Linked DNA regions of Homo sapiens. The protein of the gene in region 5 purifies or fractionates together with the protein of the main gene of each other region. This does not show direct contact. Each region holds a gene or a part of one and is shown on either strand. Other genes may lie near its edges.

Region 1 (3,500 bases), on a different chromosome or scaffold from region 5:
CCTCCAGATTCTTATATTTAGGGTGAAATCAAACAAATCTCTGTTTATATTGGACAGTAATGGGAGTTAGTAAAGCATTTTCACCTTTACAATTCCCCATATAATCTTCATGTTATGGGAACACATTTTCTGAACTCCAAAGAGAGAGAGAGACTTATGACAGCGATTTTAAGCTCCAAGGAAGTGTGTGTGTGTTTGTGTGTGTGTGTGTGTGTGTGTGTGTCTGCGTGTCTGTGTGTCCATCCCATGGTGGTGGCATATTGATAGGGATTCTGATAGCCCCTCTTATTGCCCCAATTATATGGGTGGGGGGCATTAGAGAAGGATAGCTTTCAATTATTCTAATAGCCCCTGGCCCAGGACTGCATCTTTGGAGACATAGCCTGGAGCTTTTGGCTTCTTCAGAGTTGAAGTTTGTCTTCCATTGCACAGGCAGGAACACTGAGCTGGAGTGAACCAGATGGTCTTTATGAACCAAAGTGGAACTTACACAACAGGATTTAGATGGGTAGTCTAGCGATGTGTTTATGCATTTGTGCGTATGTGTGTGTGCTGGTGTTGAGAAGCAGGGGCAGAACCTCTGAGGAAGAGAGGCCTCACATGAACAGCTGTGAGGAGGTGGAAGTGAAGCCAGTATATTCAGAGGAGAATGAGGAGGTGTCAGATTGGCCCCACAGCAGCAGGAAAGCTGAGCATCTGAGACCAGATGCTGGGAGATACCAAAGTTTGCCTGAACACCTTGTATGGATTTAAGTTTAATGAAACCAAGGGGCTTCAGGTGGTCTATGCCCTGCCTGAGTAAGACTGACGTATTTAGGCTCCCTTTCCCCCTCCAAAGGATACTTTCTGGCTACATAATACTTTAGGCAATGCTTTCTGTGCCCACCCAGGATGAGGTGCTGACCCAGGCCCAGCTGGGGGGAAGCTTTATGGATGTTCCAACTGCTTTTCATCCACGCACCAGGCTCATTTGTGCCAGATGAAAGGGCACAATAATAACAGTGGCAATTTAAATCGTGCTTCTCACTTTCCCCCTGAAAAGTGGCGAAGTGACTCACCACTGTTGAATTGTCCCTCTCTATCCACCCCCTGACCTCTTTGCAGCAGTCTAGGCTGGTTCCCTGGGGGCTAAGCTGGGAGCTAGAGCTTCCAGAGGCCCTTTAGCTGTGACTGGGATGACATCATGCCCCCCCATAAATGTGTTCCCCAAAATGCGATGTATTGCTTTAATTTGGGTTTCTCAGATGAGGCTGCTTGGAAGGCATTAGAGCAGCATGAGCCCCATTAGGCAAGTGCAGTGCCCCCCGACTCATGAATAATATAAAATGGGGTCCATTCAGTAATCTTTTCTGAGGGAGAGGCTCTGCTTGTTTTTCTACATGCAGTTTGGTATGCAGATGCTTGCTCTATTTGAAATTCGCCATATACCAACTTCTGGTAGTGATATTGTAAAAATGGGTCTGGGGGAGCTGTGAAATCATTCTGTTACTCCACCCTGATTCTTCACCTCCATTTCCCTCCATACCCAAATCCCCTGACCCTGTGGCTAGAAAATGTTCATTTTCAACTCTTTCTTTCAGCACCAGCCTACGGAGAGCTCCCAGAACTGGAGCTAGTGAGGTGCACTTGTGCCTAGAGTAATTACAGATTTTGAAGTATCAACAAAGCAGGTAATTAGGTGGAGAAAGTATCCGCTGTCTGGGAGACAAAGACAGTAATTATGATGAGTACTCTTGGTGCTGTCAGTAAACTCAAAAGAAAGATTTGTAGAGAAATGATAATGTTTGATAGAAACTTCAATGTCTAGCAGGAATCAGGGGACTCTTAGTAAAGCCACCTGGTATGTAATACAGGTTTAGGAAATATGGTAGACCTGAGTTCAAATACCAGCTCAGCCTCCTAGGGTCTGTGTGATCTTGGGGAAATTACTTAACTACTCTGAGCCTGATGTATGAAGTGTAAAAATAGCAATAATTATAGCTCTGTCTACCTTACAGGATCATTGTAAGGACCCAAGGAGATAATGCATGTCAGAACACTTAGCACAATGCCCAGTACACAGTAGGTACTTAACAAATGGCAACATTATTATTATTATTACAACTATCCTTGCTACATACCAGGTATTCTCTACAGCCGTTCAGAGTTTAAAAAGGGAAAGAAATGATTGCAGTTATGTATGATCATGGCATGAGAAGTATGAAGGGTGTAATTGTGGTGGCTCAAAGAAGCGAGCCCTCAGTTGAGAGGGAAAAGTACAGAAGAGCAGAGAAAGTTTTGTGATTCTGGAGTTAGGTTTAAAAAAAATAAGTAGGAGTTTGTCACAAGGCCCAAGGGGAAAGGGCTTCCAGGCAACTGGATCTGCCCACACAAAGCCAAAAAGGTGTGAAACAGCCAGGCCCTGAGCAAATAGTTGGGCTCAGCTAGGCACCAGCTGGGATCTCCTGGGCGGGGGAGGGGTGTCAGGTCAGAGACCAAGAATCTTTCCAGCTTACTCCCACCAGCCCCTGTATCGCGCCCTAGGCGCCCTACCTGGCCAATCACGTGCGGTGCCCTCCTCTTCTTTCCTTTAAGCAGCCAGGTACATTCACACCCTGCCCCAGCGGGCCTTGCCGACACAGAGGTGGGCGGGCAGGCGAACCCCCACGGTGAAGATCAGACCAGCGGGAACCCCTGCCGGGGTCGCGGCCCCTACTTCCTTTCTTCTCTCAGTCCCAGCCCAACGTCCCACTCGTCCCCGCCCCCAACCACACACACGGTCACTTGGGTTCTTTTAGACAACCCTGTACTCTCACACACCGCACCCATACACTTACGCGGCAATCCCCCTTCAAGACACACACAACCCCTTCATCCAAGCACGTAAGCTGACCACATGCGTCCACACCACACACATGAGAACATCACACCAAAAGACACACACCGCACCCTCACATGCATAAACCTTTGAACACACATCTCAAGTAGATTGACTTATAGAGAAATCTTGCACACGCACACATTCACACACTACACAGTTCAACAGACACCACCTGTAAACCCACATTGACACACTGCATCTAAGCATAAACACACTCCACACATATGCACACAAGCTTCAACGGGCACACACACATCCACACATTGCACACACATATACACTCACCACAGCACGACCACAAACCCCGGCAGGAACAGCACACACCCACCTTCAAACCGCACCCACATAATCCCACTATAATCGGGCAGAAACATACAACCTATAAGCGTGCACACACAAACACATGCTGCATGTCAAAGCGCAAACCAAATACACACCACACCAAGCACTCCAGCTAAAACGTGCTCCGCGCACACACCCCCCACACCCGGCCACACACCGAACGCACACACAGATCTACCGCACCCGCGCGCGCGCACACACGCTTACATGCATACATACATACATACACAGCCCGCCCCCGCCTTCCCTTTGGGCGGAAGAGAAGGGGGCGAGGAGGAGAGGAGGGGAAAAAAGGAGG
Region 2 (3,500 bases), on a different chromosome or scaffold from region 5:
TAGCTGGGCATGGTGGCGTGCCCCTGTAGACCCAGCTACTAGGGAGGCTGAGGTGGGAGGATTGCTGGAGCCCAGGAGTTTGAGGCTACAGTGAGCCATGTTTGCACCACTGCACTCCAGGCTGGGTGACAGATCGAGACCCTGTCTCAAAAAACAAATGTATATATATGTACACACACACACTTATAATTATGAAGGTATATTTCAAACTTGTAGATAATTTGAAAGATAAAGGAAAACATGAAAAATCTTTTTATCCATCTGAAAATACTCTTTTGTCTTTCCAGTCTTACTCCTTTCTGCAATATTTTTTTCTCCCTCAAAGTTGAGATCATTGGATCTAACTTTTTTCTTTTTTTGAGACGGAGTCTTGCTTTGTTGCCTAGGCTAGAGTGCAGTGGCGCAATCTCGGCTCACTACAGACTCCGCCTCCCGGGTTCAAGCGATTCTCCTGCCTCAGCCTCCCAAGTAGCTGGGATTACAGGCACCCGCCACTGCGCCCGGCTAATTTTTGTATTTTTTAGTAGAGACAGGGTTTCACCATCTTGGCCAGGCTGGTCTCAAACTCCTGACCTCATGATCCATCCACCTCAGCCTCCCAAAGTGCTGGGATTACAGGTGTGAGCCACTGCACCCGGCCTCAATTTTTCATCACTAATTATGATACTAGCTGTAGGTTTTTTATAGATGTTCTTTTTTTGTTTTTTGTTTTATTTATTTATTTATTTATTTATTTATTTATTTATTTATTTATTGAGACAGAGTCTTGGTCTGTTGCCCAGGCTGGAGTGCAGTGGCATGATCTCGACTCACTGCGCCTCCACCTCCCGGGTTCAAGCAATTCTCCTGCCTCAGCCTCCCGAGTAGCTGGGATTACAGGCGCCCGCCACCATGCCTGGCTAATTTTTGTATTTTTAGTAGAGATGGGGTTTCACCATGTTGGCCAGGCTGGTTTCAAACTCCTGGCCTCATGATCCACCCTCCTCGGCCTCCTAAAGTGCTGGGATTTCAGGTGTGAGCCACCGTGCCCGGCTGGATCTAACTTTTTAAATTTAAAATGTAAGTATTTCTTGCTGCCATAATTATGGGCAAAGGTTTGTTTTTTTGGGTTTTTTGTTTGTTTTTTTGAGACGGAGTCTCGCTTTGTTGCCCAGGCTGGAGTGCCGTGGCGCGGTATGGGCTCACTGTAACCTCCACCTCCCGGGTTCAAGCGATTCTCCTGCCTCAGCCTCCCAAGTAGCTGGGTTTACAGGCGCCAGCCACCACGCCTAGCTAATTTTTGTATTTTTAGTAGAGACTGGGTTTCACCACGTTGGCCAGGCTGGTCGCGAACTGCTGACCTCGTGATCCACCCACTTCAGCCTCCCAAAGTGCTGGGATTACAGGTGTGAGCCACGGGGCCCGGCCTTGTTTGTTTGAGACAGGATCTTGCTCTGTTGCTTACGCTGAATTGCAGTGGTGTGATCATGGCTCGCTGCAGCCTTGATCCCCTGGGCTCAAGGGATCCTCCTGCCTCAGCCTCCCACGTAGCTGGGAATATAGATGGGCACCACCCTGCCTAATTTTTGTTTGTTTTGAGACAGGGTCTCAATTCTGTTGCCCAGGCTGAAGCACAGTGGTGCGATCACAGCTCACTGCAGCCTTGACCTCCTGGGGTCAAGTGATCCTCCCATCTCAGCCTCACCCAGTAGCTGGGACTACAGGCATGTGCCATCACAACCGGCTAATTTTTTTTTTTTTTTGAGACGGAGTTTTGCTCCTGTTGCCCAGGTTGGAGTGTAATGGCGCGATCTCAGCTCACTGCGACCTCCGCCTCTCAGGTTCAAGCAATTCTCCTGCCTCAGCCTCCCGAGTAGCTGGGATTACAGGCATGTGCCACTACACCCAGCTAATTTTGTATTTTTAGTAGAGACGGGCTTTCTCCATGTTGGTCAGGCTGGTCTCTAATTCCTGACTTCAGGTGATCCACCTGCCTTGGCTTCCCAAAGTGCTGGGATTACAGGTGTGAGCCACTGTGCCTCACTCACACCTGGCTAATTTTTGTATTTTTTGTAGTGACAGGGTTTTGCCATGTTGTCCAGGCTGGTCACAAACTCCTGAGCTCAGGTCATCCACCTGCCTCAGCCTCCCAACATGCTGGGATTACAGGTGTGAGTAGAGACGGGCTTTCTCCATGTTGGTCAGGCTGGTCTCTGACTCCTGACTTCAGGTGATCCACCCGCCTTGGCTTCCCAAAGTGCTGGGATTACAGGTGTGAGCCACTGTGCCCCACTCACACCTGGCTAATTTTTGTATTTTTTGTAGTGACAGGGTTTTGCCATGTTGTCCAGGCTGGTCACAAACTCCTGAGCTCAGGTCATCCACCTGCCTCAGCCTCCCAACATGCTGGGATTACAGGTGTGAGCCACCATGCACAGCTTCCCAGCTAATTTACTTTTTCTTCTTTAAAGATGGATCTCGCTATGTTGACCAGGCTGGTTTCAAACTCCTGGGCTCAAGCGATCCGCCTGCCTCAGCCTCCCAAAGTGCTAGGATTACAGGTGTGAGTGACTGCCTGGCCAGCAAAGATTTCTGAGGTAGTTTTCCTGCTATAGTAACACTTTGGTCAAAGTGCAGGTCTAGTTAAGGAGAACAAGTATTCCAGTACATCTTTAAATACAGTTGCTTGTTTCTGGACACGGAGGGGAGGGAGACCATTGCTGGGCTATACAGATTAGTCTTATCTTGGCTAGTTGAAAATTGGTAATAGTTTTCATTTTGTGGAGAAATTTCATTGCCAAATATTGCAACATTAAGGAAATACATAAGAAATGACTGAAGTGGCTCAAAATTGTTGGACCAATATGTTTTTGAGTAAAGAACTATAAGTTTTAAGTGATGACTGTATATGTTTAATTCGTGCATTAAAGCTTATAAATACCTTTTTCAAAAACTCTTAATTTGCATTTATACAGCATTGTTATTTTTGATACAACTGCATAAGATACATTCTGTGTTGCTGTGAGCCATTAAACTGTTGTCTTGTAATTTATATTTAGAAAATAATTTGTGGATACTTAAAAGTCATTATGGGCGCATTATTTTTTCCCCTTGAATTCTGGGGTGACCTAGAAATGGTTGCATGATTTTGTAAACACTTCCCTTTTTAAAAAAGTAAAATGAGTATGTAAAATATTATATATTTAAAGCCCTCAAGCAGTCGTCTTCAAAAAGATACATCAGGAAATGTAAACAGCCCAACATTTTAATTAAAAAAAATCTGCTTGGACAATTTTTTTTCTCTTTTCATAAAAGTAATACATGATTTTTGGGTAAAAAAAAATTCCTATCAGTAGAGGAGCAAGGAAAATAATTATTCATACAGTATTCATACAAGCACATATAAAACCTATTAAAAGAAAACTTGGATTACCTACATGCTTTTGTATAATTTAAAATGATATAGTCATGATTTGTCTTGGATTTCTTCAATTCTTTTCTTTGTCAGTATTTTTGGATTT
Region 3 (3,500 bases), on a different chromosome or scaffold from region 5:
CAAAAACTACCTGGGTGTGGTGGCACACACCTGTAGTCTGAGCTATTCAGGAGGCTGAGGCAGGAGAATTGCTTGAAGCCAGGAGGTGGAAGTTGCAATGAGCCAAGATCACACCACTGCACTCTAGCTTGGGCAACAGAGTGAGACACCATCTCAAAAAAAAGAAAGCTCTTGAATGTGTTATCTAAACAAAGTCCATTTACAGGGCCATCTGTGGCCTGTGGTCTAGTAGTGTGAGACTCATATGGAAACCCCCTCTTCATTGTGCATGCAGAGACGCTGAGGTCCTGAGAAGTCAGTCACTGCTGACCCAAAGCCATCCTTCAAGTGAAGGCAGAGCTGGGACGGGAGCCAGGCTCTGTGTGTCTATCCCTCTGCCTCCAGGGTGAAAGACATGCTTTTCTCCCATTAGGTGGACCCAGGCCCAACGCCGATCCCCCACAACAGCTCATCACGATTTGACTGCAACTCTGTCTCTACGGCTGTGCGTACTCATCTCACCTGGTCCTTGCCTGACCCAGGGCCCCTGGGTCTATAGACCCCACTCCCAGCCCTTCACTACCCAGCTGGGACTGTCATGATTAAAACAGTTGAGACCTGGGCTGGGCGCACTGGCTCACACTTGTAATCCCAGCACTTTGGGAGACCAAGGTGGGAGGATCACTTGAGCCTAGGAGTTTGAGACCAGCCTGGGCAGTATAGTGAGACCCCCATCTTAAAGAAAAAAATTAAAAAATATATATATATAAAATAATTGAGACCTTAATATAATTTCTGAGGCTGAGGCGGATGGATCACTTGAGACCAGGAGTTCAAGACCAGCCTGGCCAACATGGTGAAACCCCATCTGTACTAAAAATACAAAAATTAGCCAGGCATGGTGGTGCACGCCTGTAATCCCAGCTACTCAGGAGGCTGAGGCAGGAGAATCACTTGAACCCAGGAGGTGGAGGTTGTAGTGAGCCAAGATCGAGCCACTACACTCCAGCCTGGGTGGCAGAATGAGACTCACTCTCAAAATATATATATATATAGTTTCTGAGTCCTTTCTGTCTGCACCATATATTAGCTCATTTAAGCCACACAGCAGTCCTGTGAGCTAGGTGCTATGATATTCCCATTTTCCAGATGAGGAAACTGAAGCTCAGAGAGTATAAACTCTTGACACACAACTAAGGAGTGGGAGAGCTGAGACTTGAACCCAGGCGTGCCTGACTCCAGAGCCTGTGTTTGTAGCAGGCCTGTTTGGCCAGCTCCTGCCTCTCCTTGGCCACGTGGTTGGGAGGGTTGTCCCCTGGAAGCTCTGCGGTCTCACTCTATTCTCCTGTCCCAGGCTGTGCTCCTGGCGGACATCCTCCCCACACTCGTCATCAAATTGTTGGCTCCTCTTGGCCTTCACCTGCTGCCCTACAGGTCTGGGTGAGGGTAGTGGGAGGCAGGGTGGGCAGGAGCTGAGAAAGGGGAGGCTGGGATGGCTGAGATGCTGAGAGTAGAGACCGACCTTCCCCCTCCCTTCCCTTCTCACCCCCTCAGCCCCCGGGTTCTCGTCAGTGGGATTTGTGCTGCTGGAAGCTTCGTCCTGGTTGCCTTTTCTCATTCTGTGGGGACCAGCCTGTGTGGTGAGTGTGTGGTTCTGTGTCAGATGGGGAGCCCCGAGGAACCACATCAGAGCATTTGTGGGAAGAGTCTCCCCAGCCTCCCAGAGGAAAGGGATTCATTCTGTCACCCTTAGAAGCCTGCTAGGGCTATCAGCAGTAGGCGATGGGAGACTGGGACAATTTGGAGGGGTAGGCAGTGGAGGAGATGGGAGAAAATGGATGAATTAGATGGAGATTGAGGTGAACAAAGTCAAGACTCTGTGATGGACCAGGCACAGTGACTCATGCCTATAATCCCAGCACTTTGGAAAGCCAAGGCAGGCAGATCACCTGAGGTCAGGAGTTCGAAACCAGCCTGGCCAACATGGAGAAACCCCGTCTCTACCAAAAATACAAAAATTAGCTGGGTGTGGTGGCAGGAGCCTGTAATCCCAGCTACTCGGGAGGCTGAGGCAGGAGAATCTCTTGAACCTGGGAGGCAGAGGTTGCAGTGAGCCGAGATCACGCCACTGTACTCCAGCCTGGGTGACAGGGCGAGACTCCGTCTCCAAAAAGAAAAGAAAAGAAAAAGACTGATGAAGGGGCAGAGACATCAAGGGTGCATGTCTGCCCCTGGTCTGATAACTGGGTGGATGGAGGTGCCACTCTCCATGAAGGGACACGCAGGGGAGTGGGGCTCTGCTTCAGACCTGGAACCTGGCCTATGCATGGGATCTATTGGAGCCTCTATGAGCTGATACTGAGGAGGCCATGGCCAGACACATTAGAGGCCTGGGCAGTGTGGCAAGGTGTGGTGTGACCATCCCAGTGCTTGTCCTCCCCCCAGGTGTGGTCTTCGCTAGCATCTCATCAGGCCTTGGGGAGGTCACCTTCCTCTCCCTCACTGCCTTCTACCCCAGGTAAGCAGGTGGAGCAGGGAGTGTGGGGAGAGGCTGTCCCATGGTCAGCCTAGGTCCTCCTGAATGTTCCTGTGTTCTCCTTCCCAGGGCCGTGATCTCCTGGTGGTCCTCAGGGACTGGGGGAGCTGGGCTGCTGGGGGCCCTGTCCTACCTGGGCCTCACCCAGGCCGGCCTCTCCCCTCAGCAGACCCTGCTGTCCATGCTGGGTATCCCTGCCCTGCTGCTGGCCAGGTGAGCTGCCCTGAGCCGGGAGGGAGAGGGGTCCAAGGAGAGAAAACTTGGCCATGGCTGGGTGTGGTGGCTCACGCCTGTAATCCCAGCACTTTGGGAGGCCAAGGAGGGCAGATCGCCTAAGGTCAGGAAACCAGCCTGGCCAACATGGTGAAACCCCGTCTCTACTAAAAATACAACAATTAGCCAGGTGTGGTGGCGGGTGCCTGTAGTCCCAACTACTCAGGAGGCTAAGGCAGGAGAATCGCTTGAACCCCGGAGGCAGTGGTGGCAGTGAGCCGAGATCGTGCCATTGCACTCCAGCCCGGGCGACAGAGTTAGACTCTGTCTCAGGAAGAAAAAAAAAAAAAGAAAGAAAAGAAAACTTGATTATGATTGCAATCTTCAAGTCCCTACCTTGCTGTGAAGGGAGGCGGAATCTGGACTCTGATAGCCCCAGGTGTGAGTCCTGGAGCTGCCACTTTTTAGCTTTGTAGCGTTGAACAAGTTACTCCACCTCTCTGAACCCTCAGTTTCCCCATATCTCAAATGGCAGTTGTTCTTGCTTTCCTTGGAGGTGATGAGGGTAATGCATTCAGCACAGTGTGGTTCCCAAGGTGATTAGAAGTAGGATGAGGGTGGACTTTATTTGATTAGTTCCTTTTTTTTTTTTTTTTTTTTTTAATCAGTGTTGACCAGGTTGGCCTCGAATGTGTAGCCTTGCCTGCCTGAGTGCCAGGGCAACAGGCCTGAACCATGGCGACTCCCTTTTTTTTTTTTTTTTTTTTTTTTT
Region 4 (3,500 bases), on a different chromosome or scaffold from region 5:
AAGGCCATCCAGCTCCAACAAGATAAGAACCCCTAAAACCCAAACAGTGGAGCCATAGATATTTGTTTTAATAATCATCATCATGGTAGCATAAAAACAACTCAAACCTTCTTTCCTCCATTCCTAGCACAAAAACTGATTTGTTTTATTATGATATCACCAAATACTTAGTAGAGTTTTTACATAGGGGAGAAAAAACCCTGCCATTTGAAGAATATCTTTAATAACCTCAATATATTTTATCCTCAATGACAAACCTCTGAAGAGGGTTTTATGATGGGTGAACAATGTGGAAGACATGGAGGTTAAATATACAGCCCAAAGCCTGGGCGACATAGCAAGACCCCCGTCTCTACAAAAAAAAAAAAAATTTTAATTAGCTGGGTGTGGTGGTGTGTGCCTGAGGTCCTAGCTATTCAGGAGGCTGCGGTGGGAGGATCTCTTGTATCCACGAGGTCTAGGCTAGAGTGAGCAATAATCACACCACTGCACTTCCACCTGGGTGAGAGAGTGAGACCCTGTCCCAAATATATATATATATATTATAGTCCAAATCCTAATGGAAACTGGATTAAAGGTATATGACAGTGGTGACAGTTACACAACTCTGTGCATATATTGAAAACCAATAAATCATATGCTTTAAATGGGTAAATTGTATAGTACTTGAATTATATCTCAATAAAGCAATTAAATAAAAGGTATATGACAATTCCTGTCCTGCAGGGATTTGCGATCTGGTTGGAGAGATGAGAAATACACTTAATAAACACTGAAATGAAGCATATACAGAGTGACAAAGGTGTTCTAAGATAAGAACTACTGGACTGGGATGATCAGGAAATATACACATCCATACCCGATGGCATGTGAACTCTCACACATACACCTTCGCAAATGGAACTCTTGGTAAGACCTGGGAGAGCAGCGCAGAGGTTAAGAGCAGAGACTCTGAAGACACATTGGCAAGGTTCAAATCAAGACTGTAGCACTTACCTGTTGCACAAGCGTGAGAAATTACTTAACCTCCCCTAACTCAGTTTTCTCACCTGTAAGTTGAAGTCAAAAACAGAAAGCACCTACTTCTTAGAATTAAGAAAATTAATTGAGTTACTATTTGTAAGGCTCTTGGAAAAGTACCTGGCATGCAAAAAGCACTAGGTAAGGCAGTTCTCAAATAAAAGTCTGGTTTACACTGAGACACCTACCCCTCTCCTAAGTCATCTCCCACACCTCTCCCATATACTTTATTCTCCACCACACTAAACTACCAGGCACACATGGTGGACAGAGTGAGGCCACAGCTGCTGGAGCCAGACTGGCAGGATTTGAACCCCAGCTCGATAATTTCCTAATTATCCGATCTTTTTTATTTTATTTTATTTTTTTGAGACAGAGTCTTGCTCTGTCACCCAGGCTGGAGTGCAATGGCACGACGTCAGCTCACTGCAACCTCCGCCTCCCAGGTTGAAGCAAATTCCCCTACCTCAGCCTCCCGAGCAGCTGAGATTACAAGAATGCACCACTATGCCCGGCTAATTGTTTCCTATTTTTAGTAGAGATGGGCCAGACTGGCCAGGCTGGTCTCAAATTCCTGACCTGAGGTGATTCACCTGCCTCGGCCTCCCAAGGTGCTGGGATTATAGGTGTGAGCCACCGTACCCAGCCATACTTATCAGATCTTAGGCCACTAACATCACCTCTTGGTATCTCAGAGCCTTCATCTATAAAAAAAGGATGATAGTAACTAACTCAAAAGGCTGAGGCATTAAATGAATCAACAACGAAACACAGTTGGAACTGAATTTTAAATGAATCAACAATGAAACACATTTGGAACTGAATTTGGTATCTAGTAAGCGCTCAGTAAGTGTCAGCTGCTTTTAGTTTTTATTACCTGCTGTTAACTAAATGTAGCCTGTGCTCTCACCTCCCAGCCCTTCATTTGTTTCCAACCACTGGATTGGATCTTTACTCTTCCCCATCCATTCCTTCTGAAATACTAGCAATTTTCAGAAGACTTCCCTCATCTCCTCAGAAATGGGCTCTTCTCCTACTGCTCCCACAAACCTTGTAGTGGGAGCATTTCCATCAGAGAACTTAGCCCCCTGGAATGGTTTTGGTTTTCTTGAACATCAAAATGGAGTCCAATTCATTTTATTTATTTTATTCTATTTTATTTTATTTTATTATTTTATTTTACTTTATTTTATTTTTTTTTGAGACAGGATCTCGTTCTGTAACCCAAGCTGGAGTACAGTGGTGCTATCTCAGCTCACTGCAACCTCTGCCTTCTGGGCTCAAGTGATCCTCCTGCCTTAGCCTCCCAAGTAGCCGGGACCACAGATGCGTGCCACCATGCCCAGCTAACAATTCATTTTAGTATTCTCAATTTTGTCCCATTTGCAACACTGGAAAGAACACAATACACATAAATGAATCAATGATCACAGCAACAACTCATCCAAGAATGAAAAGTCAATACAAAGTGTACTAGTCCTACAGACCAAATTGTCTTTATTATTAATGCTTTAATGTGCCCCCAAATTTCCTTCTTTTGGTTCTAGGCTAATATTGGTCTGTGTTCAGTTTTACCCCAGAACATCTCACAGGTCTGAACTCAAGGGAGCATATTCTAACTTTTAGTAGGTTCATATAGGTTAATTACATCATTCGTAACGCATAAATTTAACCAATGACGAAGAAGAAAGCTCTCCTTTAACCAAGAAAAGGGCAGAGACGAAGAAAAGGGTGACCTCTCAATTACCACCTTTTAAAACTGTTTTTTTATGGCAGTTTTGGGAAATGTTTAAAAGAAATATTCAAACAACGCAAACAGTACAGGCAGATCTAACAAGGGAACCCACAAGGATTATTCCTACAAACGTAGGCAGCAAGAGAATGGACACTTTTTGAGATAATCTCAGAATACTAAGAGTTTTAGATTAATGTTCATTCACGAAAGAAAACAAACACTTCTTGAACCATTAACTAGTAATCTTCATAGCAAAATTCAAAATAAAAAGCAGCCAAAGACTAGATTCTCCATCTCCCCATTAAAACTATTTAAAGGAAGGTCATGAATAATTAGCTGTATTTAAATAAGTATAAAGACCAAAGAAAGAAACAGATCAGAAAACTAATTGCTAGTTGTGGCTACATCTATCCAGAAAATACCAAATCTGCTTAAATATTCAAACAATTTGTCACAGTGAGTGTAGTGAGTGTTGGAATTCTCACAGTTGCTGAGTCCCCAGAGTCTCAGCCCAATTTCCTAACAGTCCATTGAGGTGAAGTCCTCTCCTATCCAGGCTCCTCAACTTTTAAGAGGGAATGCCAACCCTACCCCTATGGCTCTGTGTTCAGCTGGCAACATGGAATAGCTATGCTCCAGGGAAAAAGCAAGGAGCACAGCCTTTAACTCAGGCTGCCAACAGAATCAACCGATAAAGGTGATGCCCAAAGGCAGTTCAATAAGGGACATTCTTGGAATAAGTTAG
Region 5 (3,500 bases):
AAAACCTGATCCTTATTGTCAAGCTAAGTATACTTTCTGTCCAACTGGCTCACCTATCCCAGTTATGGAGGGTGATGATGACATTGAAGTTTTTCGATTACAAGCCCCAGTATGGGAATTTAAATATGGAGACCTCCTGGGACACTTGGTAAGGATGCATCTTGGTCTTATAACTTTGGTTAATTCAATGATTTGGTTATTAAGTTGATTTTTAAGGAGTAATCACTATTTAGATGGCTGACTTTAGATCATGTTGGTGTTTGTCTTAGTACATTTAAAATGAGTAGTCAAAAATAGTTACTATCAGATTTTGTAATCTTGACAACAACAAATGTAATCACCATTATCCATTGTAATATTATGAATCTGAAACCAGCTCCTGTACCTAGCTCCTGGAAGGTGAGAAGAGGCCCAGAAGTGGCAGGGCAGGCAGGTAACACCTCTTGATTTCCATACTCTGTTGTAGTCACTTTTCCAGGTTAACCCATCACCATGTGAGGTCTGTAGAGCTGCTTCCAGAGACTGGCATGGGGGCTCCTCACACTTATTCTAAGCTCTAAGGAAATTATCAGCTTGTCCACATAACATGCAGGCCTCCTATTTGAGATGAGCCAAATAGGGGTGTAGTGGCCAAAGCTGGGGTGGATGAGGGCCTGGAGTTTGGGGCCACAGAGTGGATATGACAGTAGCAGCATGGAAGAACAGCTGAACAGTTGTTCTACTTGATATGCATTTGTGATGTGCCACATTTTCTCCTATCAGGTTACCTGGACCCATGGTTGTGTCACAGTTGCTTTTATACATGTACTGTCTTTACACAGAAAATTATGCATGATGCCATTGGATTCAGAAGTACATTAACTGGCAAGAACTACACAATGGAATGGTATGAACTTTTCCAACTTGGCAACTGTACATTTCCCCATCTCCGACCTGAAATGGATGCCCCTTTCTGGTGTAATCAAGGCGCTGCCTGCTTTTTTGAGGGAATTGATGATGTTCACTGGAAGGAAAATGGGACATTAGTTCAAGTAGCAACTATATCAGGTAAGTTGTGAAAATATAGCAATATTTGATCATTGCATCAAAAACCAAATGAAAGAAATTGTTATACTTCCATTGAAACATTTCAGTAATGTTTTACTTAGAGGTCATTTGTAAAATGTACTTTTGGAACCATTAAACTTTGGGAATTTTTTTCATCTCTTATTTGTATTTTTTATTTATTTTATTTGAATAGGTTTGTGGGGAACTGGTTATGTTAAGTTACATGAATAAGTTCTTTAGTGGTGATTTCTGAGATTTTTGCGCACCCATCACCCGAGCAGTGTACACTGTACCCAATGTATAGTCTTTTATCCCTCACCCCTCTCCGACCCTTTTCCCCGACTTCCCAAAGTTAATCATTCTTATGCCTTTGCATCCTCATAGCTTAGCTCCCACTTACAAGTGAGAATACACAATGTTTGGTTTTCTATTCCTGAAGAGTTACTTCACTTGGATGGAATTGGAGACCATTATTCCAGGTTGCTGCAAATGCCATTATTTCATTCCTTTTTATGGCTGAGTAGTATTATTCCTTGGTATATATACACCACATTTTCTTTATCCACTCATTGATTGATGGGCATTTGAGCTGGTTCCATATTTTTGCAGTTGCAAATTGTGCTGCTATAAACATGCATGGGAAAGTATTTTTTGCGTATAATGAGTTCTCTTCCTTTGGGTAGATACCCAGTACTGGGATTGCTGGATCAAATGGCAGTTCTACTTTTAGTTCTTTAAGGAATCTCCACACTGTTTTCCATAGTGGTTGTACTAATTTACATTCCTAGCAGCAGAGAAGAAGTGTTCCCTTTCCCCCACATCCCGCCAATATCTATTTTTTTTTATTTTTTGATTATGGCCATTCTTGCAGGAGTGAGGCGGTATTACATTGTGGTTTTGATTTGCATTTCCCTGATCATTGCATTTCCCTGAGCATTTTCATGTTTCTTGGCCATTTGTATATCTTCTGAGAATTGTCTATTTGTGTCCTTAGCCACCCCCACCCCGCCTTTTTGTTGTTGTTGTTTGTTTGTTTGAGGTGGAGTTTTATTCTTGTCGCTCAGGCTGGAGTGCAATGACACAATCTCAGCTTGCTGCAACCTCCACCTCTTGGGTTCAAGCGATTCTCCAGCCTTAGCGTCCCAAGTAGCTGGGATTACAGGCGCCCGCCACCATGCCAAGCTAATTTTTGTATTTTTAGTAGAGATGGGGTTTCGCCATGTTGGCCAGCTGGTCTCAAACTCCTGACCTCAGGTCATCTGCCCACCTTGGCCTCCCAAAGTGCTGGGATTAAAGGTGTGAGCCACCACTCCCGGCCGTTAACCCACTTTTTGATGGGATTGTTTTTTTCTTGCTGATTTGAGTTCCTTGTAGATTCTGGATATTAGTCCTTTGTCAGATGTATAGATTGCAAAGATTTTCTCCCACTCTGTGGGTTGTCTATTTACTCTGCTGATTGTTCCTTTGGCTGTGCAGAAGCTTTTTAGTTTAATTAAGTCTCATCTATTTATATTTGTTTTTGTTGCATTTGCTTTTGGTGGAACCACTAAACTCTGACCCAAACTATTACTCATGCAGAACTTCACCTGTTGGTGATGAGTAGCTTATCTCTGATCTTTGAATGTTTCCCTAAAAATGCTCTTTTCCCATCATAAAAATGAATAAAATGATAAAACATTTTGTACAATTAAATTGGTCTTTCTAAACGAAATAGTAAGAGAAATCCATAAAATGCCTGATTAAAGGATATGTTAACTATATCTGAAAAAAATTTTAGTGATGATATTTTTATGTTGAAAAATAATAGCTACTAATATAGACTGGTTCTGGCACTGTTCTGAGTACTGTACATACATCACATCATTCATCATCACAACTTCTGGAGGTAGTAACTATTATTTTGCCTATTTTACAGATGGAGAAACTGAGGCACAGAGAGGTTAAAGTTACACAGCTTAGTAAGTGGGACTCCAACCCTGGCAGTTACGCCCCATTGCCCATTCTCCTAACTACTTTGATACATTGCCTCCCAAAATGTATATGATCTTATATTTGAGACCCTCTTGAGCAGTTTAAATATTTTATCTTTGAGATTTTTTTCTTCTTTTGGATGTATTGGAAAGTTGCTGAAAGTTGGAATTGTGTTGCAAGTGCTGCATTGTTGGTTAGTAATGAAAAGAGTTCAGCAATCCTTTCATTGGTAACTCCTTATGTGACTTGGGTCACATTTTATATCTTATTGGCCCGTTGCCTCATGTGCAAAATGGAGACAATATACCATAGCATTTGAGAAGTAAGGAGCTTGTCCATATGATTTATGAAGCATTACATTATAAATTGCTGTTCCCCAGAACAGTAGAAACATCTGAAATGAAAGCACTGTTGTGACAATAATTATTCAGTGAACCCCAGGACTTGAGGAAGTAATCATGCTTCCTATTTGTATAGCTCTT
Region 6 (3,500 bases), on a different chromosome or scaffold from region 5:
CTCTGCTTTTAGTGTTTTTCTTAGAAAAGCTGAGAAGCTTTGAAAGGTGTATTTGCTGGCTGGGCACAGTGGCTCATGCCTGTAATCCCAACACTGGGAGGCCGAGGCGGGCAGATCACCTGAGGTCAGGAGTCCAAGTCCAGCCTGGCCAACATGGGGAAACCCCGTCTCTACTAAAAATACAAAAAAATTAGTTGGGTGTGGTGGCGGGCGCCTGTAATCCCAGCTACTCAGGAGGCTGAGGCAGAAGAATCGCTTGAACCCAGGAGGCGGAGGTTGCAGTGAGCCGAGAACACGCCATTGCACTCCAGCCTGGGCAACAAGAGTGAAACTGTCTCAAAAAAAGAAAGAAAGAAAGATGTATTTGCCCATAGAAACAATTTACTCCAAGGGTCAATTCTCACTAGCTCATTAGCTGTCACCAGATCATTAACCAGACCAGTGTGATAGTGGGTTGTGATAAAGTATCCGTAGCCACATTGCCCAATCAAAATATAAATGTGAGCCCCATATGTAATTTTAACTTTTCTAATAGCCACATTAAAAAGTAAAAAGAAACAGATGAAATTTCAGTAGTTATTTAACCTAATATTCTAAAACTCTATAATTTCCACTTAATGTAAATTATTGAGGGTTTTTTTTTAATACTTAAAGCACATCCCAGCCACATTTCAAGTGCTTAATAAGCACCTGTGGCTACCATCCTCAACAGCACAGATATAGTGTATCCTGCATGCTCTATGGAACTGATGGTAAAGAGTTGCAGGGGGCTGGGCACGGTGGCTCACGCCTGTAATCCCAGCACTTTGGGAGGCCGAGGCGGGCGGATCACAAGGTCAGGAGATCGAGACCATCCTGGCTAACACAGTGAAACCCTGTCTCTACTAAAAATACAAAAAATTAGCCGGGTGTAGTGGCAGGCGCCTGTAGTCCCAGCTACTGGGGACGCTGAGGCAGGAGAATGGCATGAACCCAGGAGGCAGAGCTTGCAGTAAGCTGAGATCATGCCACTGCACTCCAGCCGGGGCTACAGAGCGAGACTCCGTCTCAAACAAACAAACAAAAAAAAGAGTTGCAGGGAGCCCAGACTGACATAGGGAAACCCAGGGAAAGGAGATAGGGAATAGATTAAAAGATGGATAAATAAATGACGGGGAGTTGCTGATCCCTCTTGTAGCCATTCCTTTTTACTGTGTTCTGTTCATATTTTCTCTCTGATTCTCTGACTACTTTCCTTTTGTTTTTTAAGTTTCTCCCTTTTGACATTTCCCTTTTTAGTTGTCTAAATTTTTTTAAAAAAATTGTTTTGGATGTCACACCTTCAAGGCTAATTTCTCCCAAGTAAAGCTCTGTTTTATTATCATCAGACTAATTTTAAGATATTCTCATTGCTTTAAAAAAAAAAAGCTGTCTTTCTTACCAAGTAGTTGAGCAAATTGTTTCCCAATTACTGTGACAGAAATTAAAATGAGTAAAGGAGCTGGGTGTGGTGGCATACCCGGTTACTTGGGAGGCTGAGGCAGGAGGATCACTTGAGTCCAAGAGTCTGGACTATAGTCACAAGTTCATCATCAATATGGTGACCTCCTGGGAGCAGAGGATCACCAGGTTGCCTAAGGAGGAGTGAACCGGCCCGGGACAGAATCAGAGCAGGTCAAAACTGTGCTGATTAGTAGTGAGGTTGTGCCTGTGGATAGCAATTGTACTCCAACCTGAGCAACATAGCGAGACTCCATCTCTTTAGAAAAGTGAGTAAAGATGGAAAGTATAAGACTGTTACTACAAATGTCATTGTTACAAATACTTTGTTTAGAAAGATATTAGATATTTTAATATTTCACATACTTATTGTCATTTGTAATAACTTATTCTAGCACACCATTGGTTTTGTGTTTCAGATAAGCCCGTTTGTTTTTAGACCTCTGATAGTTACCTGAAATGTTTATTTGAAGCCTGAAAGGAAGACTTAATCCTTACCTCTATCACCTGTCATTAAACTGTATGGAGCAAGTCACTGCTTTACTTAGATGTTGTCTTATCATACCTGTTGTTTACATGCTAGAGTTATTCCAATTGAATTACTCCTTGACTGTTTACCTCCCTTTTCTTAGGTTCAGTGGCATACTTTGAACTTTTTAAAGAAGGATGAGCAATGGAAGATAGGATGGATGTTTTCCTAAACTGATTTTTTTTTTTTTTGGAGAAGTTTATCAGGACAGTGGATAAGTGCCTAGGTGCATTTACTGAGCCCACGTTGATGTTACTAGGGTTTTCTACTTTTAAATGATTTATCTTTTTATTCTTGGCTTTTGCCATTTTATTGCCATTGCTAAAACTGAGGAACTCATTTGAACCTCCCAAGGAGAGGAATTTTTATAACTGTTAACTACATCACTTATCAAGCATTGAGGCCAAATAAGGAGATATTTCTGTCTCCCTGTGTATCATATAGATTCAAGGGCAGAGGAGTTATATTTTGAAGCTACCAAAACTATCTTGTGCATGTGTGCTTTTTTTTTTTTTTTTTACAAGTCAGTAACTAATGCAAACACTTTTACATCTGGGATGCTGGGCTTTGTAAATCTAAAATTCTCCCAAACAGTATCTTTCAGCTTCTAGTGCCCTGTTGAAGGAGATCATGAAGAAACAAAGTTCTTCGCCTCATAAATTTAGCATTAAAAAGAAGCCCCATCAGTGCCTGTGGAAACATAGGGAAAGAAAAAAAAAAACACCCAAAGTTGTGCTGATAATTATTTTTATTTTTAAAATTTATTATAGAGCATTGCAGACGTACACAACTTATTTGTTTATTTATTTATGTTTTTTTTGAGACAGTCTTGCTCTGTCACCCAGGCTGGAGTGCAGTGGCGTGATCTCCACTCACTACAATCTCTGCCTCCCAGGTTCAGGCGATTCTTGTGCCTCAGCCTCCTGAGTAGTTGGGATTACAGGCATGCACCACCACACCTGGCTAATTTTTGTATTTTTAATAGAGGCGGGGTTTCACCATGTTGGCCAGGGTGATCTTGAACTCCTGGCCTCAAGTGATCTGACCACCTTAGCCTCCCAAAGTGCTGGGATTACAAGTGTGAGCCACTGCACCTGCCCCCAAATTAGAATAGTATAATGAATCCCCATGTACCTATGCCTAACCTCAACAACAATCAACTTACAGCCAGTTTTTTCTCAGCCACATCCACTTCCTTGCTTCCTTCTTACTTTGAAGTAAATCCCAATCATTATGTCATTTCATCTGTAAACATTGAGGTATATATGTCTAAAATATATATGTGTTTCTAAAAACATTTTTTTAAAGATAATGTCAACCCAAGAAAATTAATAATACCTTCAAATCATCAAATAGACTGAGTCTTTTAAAAATAGAAATTCGGCCGAGCATGGTGGCTCATGCCTGTAATCCCAACACTTTGGGAGGCTGAGGTGGGCGGATCACAAGGTCAGGAGTTAGACACCAGCCTGACCAACCTGGTGAAACCCCG
Region 7 (3,500 bases), on a different chromosome or scaffold from region 5:
CATTAAAACTCCCCTCTGTTTGAAATATCTATAGTAATTTTTCTTTTCCTGACTAATACAACCTGTTAAAGAAGCTGAAGCTCTGGTAAGTTAAATGCCCAACAATGGTCTTGAGTAGCTAGTGATTTTTGTTGCTATTGGTAAGTAAATCTAGACACTACTTTTTAGTCCCTTTTTTAAAAGAGGACTGGTTTATCTATGATGAATACATGATTGATTGATTGATTGATTGATTGATTTTTACTTTTTCTTTTTTTTTTTTTGAGACGGAGTCTTGCTCTGTCACCCAGGCTGGAGTGCAGTAACATGATCTCTGCTCACTGCAAGCTCCTCCTCCCGGGTTCACGCCATTCTCCTGCCTCAGCCTCCTGAGTAGCTGGGGCTACAGGCATCTGCCACCACGCCCGGCTAATTCTTTTGTATTTTTAGTAGAGACGGGGTTTCACCATGTTAGCCAGGATGGTCTCGATCTCCTGACCTTGTGATCCGCCTGCCTCAGCCTCCCAAAGTGCTGAGATTACAGGCATGAGCCACCACGCCCGGCCTAATTTATTAAAACTTTCGGGTGGTCAGGTAATTCTGATTTGTCAGCCATATTTCTAAATTATCATTGTATTTTATCTTACAGTTCTTTACAATGTAGAAAATCTTATTTGAGTGTTGTTTACCTCTAATAATCATGTTTTAAATCTAGAGATGCCCAATTTTGAATAAAATGGAAGCCTTTCTAAAAGACTATAATTTTAAATGATAATATTCCATTCATATAATAATTGCTACTTCACATGTACACAATTGAGTGCCCTAAATACTAAACTTAAAGAAACTAATACTTCAGGTGATTGCTAAACTCTTAATATCTATTTCTCAATTTCAAAGTTGAAAACCAGCAACTTATAACCTAAAACAATTTTTTTTCTGTTTCTCCTTTCTAAAGCTCTTTCACCATGCCTGGATCACTTCCTTTGAATGCAGAAGCTTGCTGGCCAAAAGATGTGGGAATTGTTGCCCTTGAGATCTATTTTCCTTCTCAATATGTTGATCAAGCAGAGTTGGAAAAATATGATGGTGTAGATGCTGGAAAGTATACCATTGGCTTGGGCCAGGCCAAGATGGGCTTCTGCACAGATAGAGAAGATATTAACTCTCTTTGCATGACTGTGGTTCAGAATCTTATGGAGAGAAATAACCTTTCCTATGATTGCATTGGGCGGCTGGAAGTTGGAACAGAGACAATCATCGACAAATCAAAGTCTGTGAAGACTAATTTGATGCAGCTGTTTGAAGAGTCTGGGAATACAGATATAGAAGGAATCGACACAACTAATGCATGCTATGGAGGCACAGCTGCTGTCTTCAATGCTGTTAACTGGATTGAGTCCAGCTCTTGGGATGGTATGTTACATGCCTATTCCCCGCCGTCCCCCAAAATTTTTTTCTAAGGTTCAATAGACCCAGATGACACTTTAATTAATGCAATACGCAAACTTTTGTAATTTGTCCTTGTTTGGATATATTAAGAAAGATATTTTACCTGTCTGTCATTATCCGAATTGTGAATTGGTTATCTTATCTTGTAGGACAAATGGTCTATTCAAAATTTAGTCAGATGGATGACAGAGCCTTGGCAGATGAATTTTAAAAAAAAATTAGAGCATTTTCTTTCTTTATCAAAGAAGGGAAAAGCATATTCTGGGGAAAATATAACAGACTTCAGTTTCCATGTTTGGTTATAGTGTTGAATTCCTTCTTGTGAAATAACAAAAAATATTTTTCAGGACGGTATGCCCTGGTAGTTGCAGGAGATATTGCTGTATATGCCACAGGAAATGCTAGACCTACAGGTGGAGTTGGAGCAGTAGCTCTGCTAATTGGGCCAAATGCTCCTTTAATTTTTGAACGAGGTAAGTGCTTGGGAAAGCATTTTTGTTTTTTTTAGCACAATATGCTGAGAAATTTGAAAATAGAAGTAGGAGCTGTCGCTTACTTAATGGTCATTAAATGCAGGTACTACTTGCTAAGAGCTTTATGTGTGTTATCATATTTATGTTTTTTTTTCTTTTTTTTTTTTTTTGAGACCGAGTTTCACTCTTGTTGCCCAAGCTGGAGTGCAATGGCACGATCTCGGCTCACTGCAACCTCTGCCCCCAGGTTCAAGTGATTCTCCTGCCTCAGCCTCCTGAGTAGCTGGGATTGCAGGCACACACCACCATGCCTGGCTAATTTTTTGTATTTTTAGTAACAGGGTTTCACCATGTTAGCCAGGCTGGCATCGAATTCCTGACCTCAGGTGATCCGCCCCCCTCAACCTCCCAAAGTGCTGGGATTACAGGCGTAAGCCACCATGCCTGGCCTGTATTTAATCTTCATAGCAGTTTTATGAGGTAGGTGGTGTCATCCCCACTTTACAGAGAAGTGGGTTAATGTAGGGTTCAAATGATAAATAGTAACTTGCTGATAGTCACTGGCAATTTTAATTTGTCTTCAGTGTAGTAGAGTAACTGTGAACTGTTAGAGTTATGAAACTGACATGGAAAGTTGTATACCAAAGGAGTCTTAGGACTGTCCATGGATACTGTTATGTATCATTTCACTTATATTGGCTTCAGCTTGCGATTTCTCTACTGTAAGTGGTGAGAATTGATCAGATAGTTAAGGAAGGTCCTTAGATAATGCAGTATACTTATTAACATACAGACATCAAGAAGCAGAAATATATAGACATCTTCCTTTTTGGTTCTAATAGGGCTTCGTGGGACACATATGCAACATGCCTATGATTTTTACAAGCCTGATATGCTATCTGAATATCCTATAGTAGATGGAAAACTCTCCATACAGTGCTACCTCAGTGCATTAGACCGCTGCTATTCTGTCTACTGCAAAAAGATCCATGCCCAGTGGCAGAAAGGTAAGTTTTACCCATTTTCCTTGGTTTTGGTATGAGTTGAGAGCAGTCTAATGTACTAGGTATCTTTGGTAGGCAACTACTTTGTGGGCATTCTTCATTTAATATCCTTTTACCATTAATTCCTCATTCACCAAACAACATTTTCCCATAGTTTCTGGGAAAGTGTAATTTACTAGAAGAGGTAAACTTTGGAACTGAGGTGTATCTCTGCAAAAATATTTAGGTCGGTTTACCCCTTGTAAGAAAATCAAAGTGGAGAAAAGAAGGTAAGTTGAATTTTGTTCATCTTTTGAGAGAGGTATTTTAACAAGGTTTTGGACTACAGCTGTGATTCAGGGAAAGCTAATGAAAATGAATTACTAAAGTGATCTTACCCCAAAAATAATCTTTTTGCACTTGACCTGTGAATTTGTATTTGTTTTTTTACTGTTATCATTAATCTGGAAATTTGTTGAGGCACTGAAAGGACAGTATTTGAGTTAATGCTATCATAACACATTATTACATAAAGTATACTTTTTCTGTAGTCCAACTTTGCTTTTTAGAGGTTATGAGAAGGGGTTAAAAATCATATTCAATGACAAATATC

The links.
Region 1: the proteins of CLN5 (region 5) and ARHGAP36 purify together in Homo sapiens (affinity purification with mass spectrometry, with the first as the bait; one large-scale study listed by BioGRID). This does not show direct contact.
Region 2: the proteins of CLN5 (region 5) and ARF4 purify together in Homo sapiens (affinity purification with mass spectrometry, with the first as the bait; one large-scale study listed by BioGRID). This does not show direct contact.
Region 3: the proteins of CLN5 (region 5) and CLN3 purify together in Homo sapiens (co-immunoprecipitation; one study listed by IntAct). This does not show direct contact.
Region 4: the proteins of CLN5 (region 5) and SLC25A13 purify together in Homo sapiens (affinity purification with mass spectrometry, with the first as the bait; one large-scale study listed by BioGRID). This does not show direct contact.
Region 6: the proteins of CLN5 (region 5) and CALU purify together in Homo sapiens (affinity purification with mass spectrometry, with the first as the bait; one large-scale study listed by BioGRID). This does not show direct contact.
Region 7: the proteins of CLN5 (region 5) and HMGCS1 purify together in Homo sapiens (affinity purification with mass spectrometry, with the first as the bait; one large-scale study listed by BioGRID). This does not show direct contact.

Annotation. Positions count from the first base shown.
Region 1 is NC_000023.11:131,064,846-131,068,345, forward strand, and holds part of ARHGAP36 (rho GTPase-activating protein 36 isoform 1 precursor), read left to right. Parts: intron 1-3,500. UniProt on the Homo sapiens protein: GTPase activator for the Rho-type GTPases by converting them to an inactive GDP-bound state.
Region 2 is NC_000003.12:57,587,345-57,590,844, reverse strand, and holds part of ARF4 (ADP-ribosylation factor 4), read left to right. Parts: intron 1-3,500.
Region 3 is NC_000016.10:28,485,575-28,489,074, reverse strand, and holds part of CLN3 (battenin), read left to right. Parts: intron 1-412; coding exon 413-484; intron 485-1,333; coding exon 1,334-1,413; intron 1,414-1,533; coding exon 1,534-1,619; intron 1,620-2,424; coding exon 2,425-2,497; intron 2,498-2,584; coding exon 2,585-2,728; intron 2,729-3,500.
Region 4 is NC_000007.14:96,315,599-96,319,098, forward strand, and holds part of SLC25A13 (electrogenic aspartate/glutamate antiporter SLC25A13, mitochondrial), read right to left. Parts: intron 1-3,500. UniProt on the Homo sapiens protein: Mitochondrial electrogenic aspartate/glutamate antiporter that favors efflux of aspartate and entry of glutamate and proton within the mitochondria as part of the malate-aspartate shuttle.
Region 5 is NC_000013.11:76,995,081-76,998,580, forward strand, and holds part of CLN5 (bis(monoacylglycero)phosphate synthase CLN5), read left to right. Parts: coding exon 1-148; intron 149-821; coding exon 822-1,047; intron 1,048-2,962; coding exon of another isoform or gene 2,963-2,991; exon of another isoform or gene 2,992-3,005; intron 3,006-3,500. UniProt on the Homo sapiens protein: Exhibits palmitoyl protein thioesterase (S-depalmitoylation) activity in vitro and most likely plays a role in protein S-depalmitoylation.
Region 6 is NC_000007.14:128,759,859-128,763,358, forward strand, and holds part of CALU (calumenin isoform a precursor), read left to right. Parts: intron 1-3,500. UniProt on the Homo sapiens protein: Involved in regulation of vitamin K-dependent carboxylation of multiple N-terminal glutamate residues. Seems to inhibit gamma-carboxylase GGCX. Binds 7 calcium ions with a low affinity.
Region 7 is NC_000005.10:43,296,413-43,299,912, reverse strand, and holds part of HMGCS1 (hydroxymethylglutaryl-CoA synthase, cytoplasmic), read left to right. Parts: intron 1-937; 5' UTR 938-947; coding exon 948-1,395; intron 1,396-1,778; coding exon 1,779-1,904; intron 1,905-2,746; coding exon 2,747-2,911; intron 2,912-3,500. UniProt on the Homo sapiens protein: Catalyzes the condensation of acetyl-CoA with acetoacetyl-CoA to form HMG-CoA, which is converted by HMG-CoA reductase (HMGCR) into mevalonate, a precursor for cholesterol synthesis.